Regions from separate parts of the Homo sapiens genome. Here region 2 is linked to region 1. Evidence: fine-mapped expression QTL. A gene starts in region 1. The other region holds a variant in brackets. All regions are shown on one strand. Distances are from middle to middle. Region 1 holds the start of GREM2 (gremlin 2, DAN family BMP antagonist). Region 2 overlaps LOC105373228 (a long non-coding RNA gene).

Region 1 (2,922 bases):
ATGAACAAACAGGGCAGTCATCCACTCTCCCAGCTCTATTTGCTGTCTGCCTTCAGCAAGTCACTTTATCATTCCTCCACTCTGTTTCTCCACCTGGAAAATCTGGAATATCATACCTATAACTCCTTTTTTTTTCGAAGACTGTTGAGATCTTTAGAAGAAATACATTCTACACTTTCAAAGATTTATGACAGTATTTTGTTTTTAGCTGCCTACCTAAAGAAAGGGAATGAACTGGAGTTGTTGAAGCAATAAGGATATGCCATTTGAGGTTAGACTGTGGTTAGCAGGAACCAACTGCTAAACGTGGTTTTGTTTTGTATTTCCTTTGTCAATTTCAGCTGATTTCAGGCAGGCCCATTCTGAGAATAAGGCTGCATTTCACAATTCCTGTAATGTGCCCACGTAAGAAAGAAGGCAGGTAGTCTGTTTGGTGATAGTATATTTCAAGAACTAATTGTTATTTCCTGTGAATTTGCAACCCAATGTGCTGTGAGTTGAGTTGGAACTAGAATATCAAATACCAAATAGCATACAAAAGGGATAACACTGCAAAAAAAAAATTCAAGTCAAAAATCAAAACAGAGCTCAGAGATTTCAGAAGCAATGGCTTCTTGTCAAGAATAACTGTCATTAAAATTTCCATAAGCACCAGTGAAATTGATTTTGGGGAAAAGTCTAAGGGAGGGTCTGTTTTATAAGACACACTGAAACTTTATTTTATTCTGAATTTCCCCAGCCAAGTTTGTAAGATCTCAGATTTTTCTTGGGCCCTTTCCCTGCCAAGGGGCCAAAGGTTTATCTCTATTGACACATACAGATAAAAAATTTTCATCCAGGAACCTCTATCAGCAGAGTCTGAATAGTCGTCTTTGGCTGGTGAATCACACTAAGGGAGTCTCAGTCCTGAGATGATCAGTGGTGAGAAGTTCAAAAAATAATGAAAAGAGCAAGCACTTAGGCGTCACAATACGCTTCTGGTATAACGCACCAAGCCGATGGAGCACAAGAATTGGTCTGGCGTCATTGTTTTATGTTCTCTGGATGTTGAAGAGTCTGATTTGCATTAGAAACCTCTGCATTCAATAAACAAAAATCAGGATAATAATGACCAAAGTACTATTTGGAACAGAAAACAAATTCAAGCAATGGGTGTTTTGCACTGAATTCATTCAAGATTTTATTAGTTAAGCTCTCACTTAGGTTATTAGGCTCAGCTTGCTTTTTATTTCACTGGCCTCAGTTACTGCAAACAAAAGGAGCCTGGTGTGTGTGTGTGTGTGTGTGTGTGTGTGTGTGTAAGCGCACGTGTATGAGAATGTCAGACATATCACACACAGGCTTTCTACATTCTTCACATTGGAAACCCATCAGCAAAAGGAAGAAGATCTGAAGGGAATGAGTGTTTTTTTTTTGTTTTTTGTTTTTTTCTGGTTTAGGGGATGGAGGGAGAATTTCTCTACATAAACAAGAAGGTTAGAATTGGAAGTCTGCTAAAAAAAATGTTAGAGCTGACCACAGGGTTGTAAATCCACTGACTGGAAGGAGGAAAAGAGAAACATTGCAAGCGACTGAAGTGTGTGGTGTGGCTGCAATGTTTGTGGGTTAGATGAGAAACAAGCGCTGAGTGAAACAGAGAAGGGGGGTGGCTGGTGTGATTTGTTTGGTGTTCAGAGCCAATAGAAATCCCAGACTCTGATAATATCCCCATGCAGCGCCGAGAGGATTCAGAGCTAAGTCTCCGGGCTCCTTTCACATCTGCAGGAGCAGCCAGCCTGGGACCGCGCGGCGCGGGGCGCGCTCTCGCCTCTCCTGCACCCTCAGCCGGCGCGCTTCTCTTATGGGCGTCTGCTGCAGTCTGGCTGCGGTCGAACTGAAAGCGGCGGCGGGAGACCAAACTTAGACCCCGCTGTGGACTAGAGAACTCAGAGAAGGCAGAGGGAGAGGGAGAGAGAGAGAGAGAAGGGACCCGAGGAGGAGGCTTCCATCACGTCATTGCAGGTACGCAGCTTGTCACGACTAACGTGACACAGACACGGTTTCTGATTTCTACCTTCACCAGGCACTTAGAATGAATTGACGTTGTTTGTTCCGTGGCTGGTCAGGACCGAAAGCCCTGAGTGGACGTCTCGCCGGTTTCACCCCGGGTAATTCAAGCTGTTGGCGTGTGTCTGGGGGCCACAAGGTTTATTCACCTATTGAATTATGCGTGGGTGTAACATAAGGACCTTCAAACTTGACCGTGATCGCTCTTTCTTTCTCTTTTAAATAACGTCAATACCAATATGTTGTCATCCCACCAATAAATACCTCTTGGTGACCGCCATTCTAATCATGACTATAGCGAGGCAAACACCATCCAATTGTTAGAAAGCGGGCTACGAACCTCTCCCACCTACCTACCAGGTTAATATCCTCCCTACAGGAATAGGAACCACAGCGGACTTCGGCAGAGTTTTGATTTTTTAAAGCATATGGCCAAGGTGCACCCGCCTCATGAGGGAAATATCACTATTATCACTACGCTGTGGTTGAAGGAGAAGAGAGAAGGGAGGTAGTTATTTTTTAACGTGATTGTCAGTGATCCTTCCTGTGTACCTGACTTATTTCTACATTGTCTTACGAGTTTAAAAATGCATTTGTATTCTGCACGCCAGGCACGTTCAGTTCCAGGATCTCACATATTACTACATTAAAAAGTCATGAATTGGAACTATCTAGTAGATGTGATAGTTGTAAGAAAATATTGATGTTTGATTTTATTTTATTTGATCCTAAAACTCATAAACTTCTATTTCTTTTTTTTTTTTATTTTGAGGTGTGGGTTTTGTTAAAAAAATCTATTTCCTGAGATTTTATCATGTTTGATTTGAAATTTTAAAGATAGTTATATAACTCCCCACCCCTTGATGACTTGTGATT
Region 2 (2,922 bases), 76 kb before region 1:
ACAATTTGCATGAATCCCCCTGAGCTAGGGAAGCTGAGGATATCTGAAAGAGAAGGGGGAAAATGTATTTTAAAAGCTTCCCAGAAACAGATTAAGAGTTAAGAAAAAGAAAAATCCTGTTAACAACTGGAATGGGCAGACACCGCTCTGCCAGCCTTAAAAGAGTCAGATGAGAGGCCAGACACGGATTTCTGCTTTTCCGAAAGTCACCCAGACATAGACAAGGATAAAGTAAAAACGAGAAATGTAGAACAACATGATCCCTTTATTTTGATAATTTAGAAAATAAAAAGAAATGATTGCAGTGTAGGCAAGCAGCAGAGGCCTAAAACTTCAATACTTTACATGGAAAAGGAGACTGGAGGTGTTTGAAGAAAAAGCAATTTCAATTGCAGTGGCTTTTAACCTTTTGGGAGCATTGAATTGCCTTGAGAATCTGGAAAATGCTATGCATCCTCTTCCCCCGAATACAAATGCATGATTTTCCATTCCATTCATGAAATTTCACTCATAATTATTTTGCACGTATGACAGGTTAATAACTCTTACACAGAATAGAGTTTCTGGCTTTGTTTTGTTTTGTTTTTCATCTTTTTGTTTGGTTTGTTTGGTAATGAGTTTTGCAAACCTTGGGAAGGTAGTGTGAGGCAAGGTTATTGGTGAGGGAAGGTGATTAACTGTGTTCTAAATAAATAGTAGTTATGGTGAATCATTTCCCTCCCATCCTACCTCAAAGAAAAAATTTGGATAAATAAAATATGTACGAAATTACAATGACATACCAAGAATGGTGAATTCTTAATGCTCCTCAATGTAAACTGGCATGTAAACACATGGACATTTTTCTTGCATCTCTACTTATTGGTTATATTTGTTTCAATCATTAAGATCTTTGAGACTGGGCGCGATGGCTCATGCCTGTAATCCCAGCACTTTGGGAGGCTGAGGCGGGCGGATCACCTGAGGTAGGGAGTTCAAGACCAGCCTAACCAACATGGAGAAACCCTGTCTCTACTAAAAATACAGACTAGCCGGGCGTGGTGGCGCATGACTGTAATCCCAGCTACTAAGGAGGCTGAGGCAGGAGAATTGCTTGAACCTGGGAGGTGGAGGTTGTAGTGAGCCGAGATTGTGCCATTGCACTCCAGCCTGGGCAACAAGAGTGAAACTCCATCTCAAAAAAAAAAAAAAAAAAAAAAGATCCTTGAAAAGCATCATATCATTCATTGTGTCTTTCTTATGTCTTTTACTTAAGACAGTTACCTGGTGTGGCATGACACAATATCTCCCAGCCTCTAAAATATTATTTCTCAATCATATTTTGCCATAGGAATGATCTTGTCTGGTCACATTCCAGAAGCAGGAGGAAAAAAAAATAGCATTTCTGAAGCCAATGAGTGCCAGTCACTTGAAGATGGTAATCTGAACAGGAAGAGCACTGTGACTTACTACTGTCCTTCAGAGAAAAAGGAAGAGGTGCACGTCACAGA[C/T]GGGAAGTCAGTGAACCAGAGGCAAAGGTACTGAAACTTTATTTGGCAAATATGAAACATCCGTTGTGCCAAGAGCACAGATCCAGTTTTTGCAAGATGCAAATTTCATGGCAAACAACAAAAGCCTGAAGAACCACTTAGCTAATAACTGACTTCGTACTCAGCATCCCTTTTCTGTTTTTCTGCTGTGACAGGCCTTTATTGAAAGCCAGAATATATAGATCAGTCAAAACCTCAGAACAAAAAGGTAGTGGGCCTGAGCTCAGAATGTCAGGCAATTAATGCACTAGTGTTGGCATCAGCCTCCAAATCCTTGAAAATATAAAATACTTGAACACTCGTCTCTCTTATGAATGAGTTCCCCATCATATATTGGTTTCCTTAATGAAGATCAGAAAGGAGTTTCGGAAAATGATATGCTTAGCCAATTTAACACCAGCTGTTTGATTCTCCAAGTTTCCTTACCCTAAATGACTTTACAACAAAGTCAAGTAGAAACGCCGCTGAACAATCCTGTCATCCTTTCCTCACCCTGGCCGAATGAGGCTTTTTTTGGATTGCAAAAATTGATTAAAATTAAAAGACATCGTTTAATTAATCTTCTGTGCCATGAGACTCCATCAGGCTGTCTACAAAGACCACTGGGAGGCTGAGGATCACTTGAGCCCAGGAGTTTGAGGCTATAGTGAGCCTCAAAGGGTCTCTGCACTGCAGCCTGGGTGACAGAGCGAGACCTGTCACACACACACACACACACACACACACACACAAAGACTTTTAGCCACATTTCCAGATTTCAATGTAAATGGTACTTGGGGAATGCTTTTTGACCCAAGAAAGGAAACTAGGTCTGAGTGTTTATCGTTTGTAGATTGGTGAATAGATTCAGAAAAGCTAATAACACAAATTTGAGAGTGGCATTTTGTGGGCATAGATTTCACATTAAAACTGAGACCAAAAGACTAGTGTCTGTTATCTTGACATTTTGTGGAGTTAAAACTAAGGACAAAGGCTGTTTAGAGAGCACAGCGGTGATCTGTACTTATGAAATTTAGTGACCCTCAGTTGCTTGGCAAAACTACAAAAAAAAATTGTGACCTGCTTTTTATACAGGTGAATAAACAATTCAGGTATCAAACAATGAACCCCTTGATTTCAAAGGACAGTGATGTGTTTGACGATAAGAGACAATTCCTATAATTCTTTTGTATTCCAGTGAAGTTTATAGCATGAACGACTTGTTTTTTTGGTACAATCCTGTACATTAATTGTTACCAGCACGTATCTCGGAGCTCCTGTCCACACAATAGTCATTACTAACACCTGAGTTGATCTGCACAAGGGCACGGATTACACGGGTAAGTGAAATAGCATCCACATTCATCACCGATTTCAGTTATGTCTAAGAATATAGGATCAAATTTTTATGTTC

Evidence for each region. PIP is the estimated chance that this variant, and not a neighbour inherited with it, causes the effect.
Region 2: its variant is fine-mapped to the expression of GREM2 in whole blood (TOPMed, PIP 0.94).

The regions. Positions count from the first base shown.
Region 1 is chr1:240,610,963-240,613,884 of GRCh38, reverse strand. GREM2 (gremlin 2, DAN family BMP antagonist) reads left to right here and starts at 1,730. Exons shown (of 2, transcript NM_022469.4): 1 at 1,730-2,001.
Region 2 is chr1:240,686,560-240,689,481 of GRCh38, reverse strand. It overlaps LOC105373228 (a long non-coding RNA gene), which reads left to right. Exons shown (of 4, transcript XR_949320.2): 2 at 1,331-1,517; 3 at 2,707-2,848. Among named protein-coding and RNA genes, the nearest start is that of GREM2, 76 kb to the right of the region's middle. The variant C/T (reference allele first, on the strand shown) is at 1,491.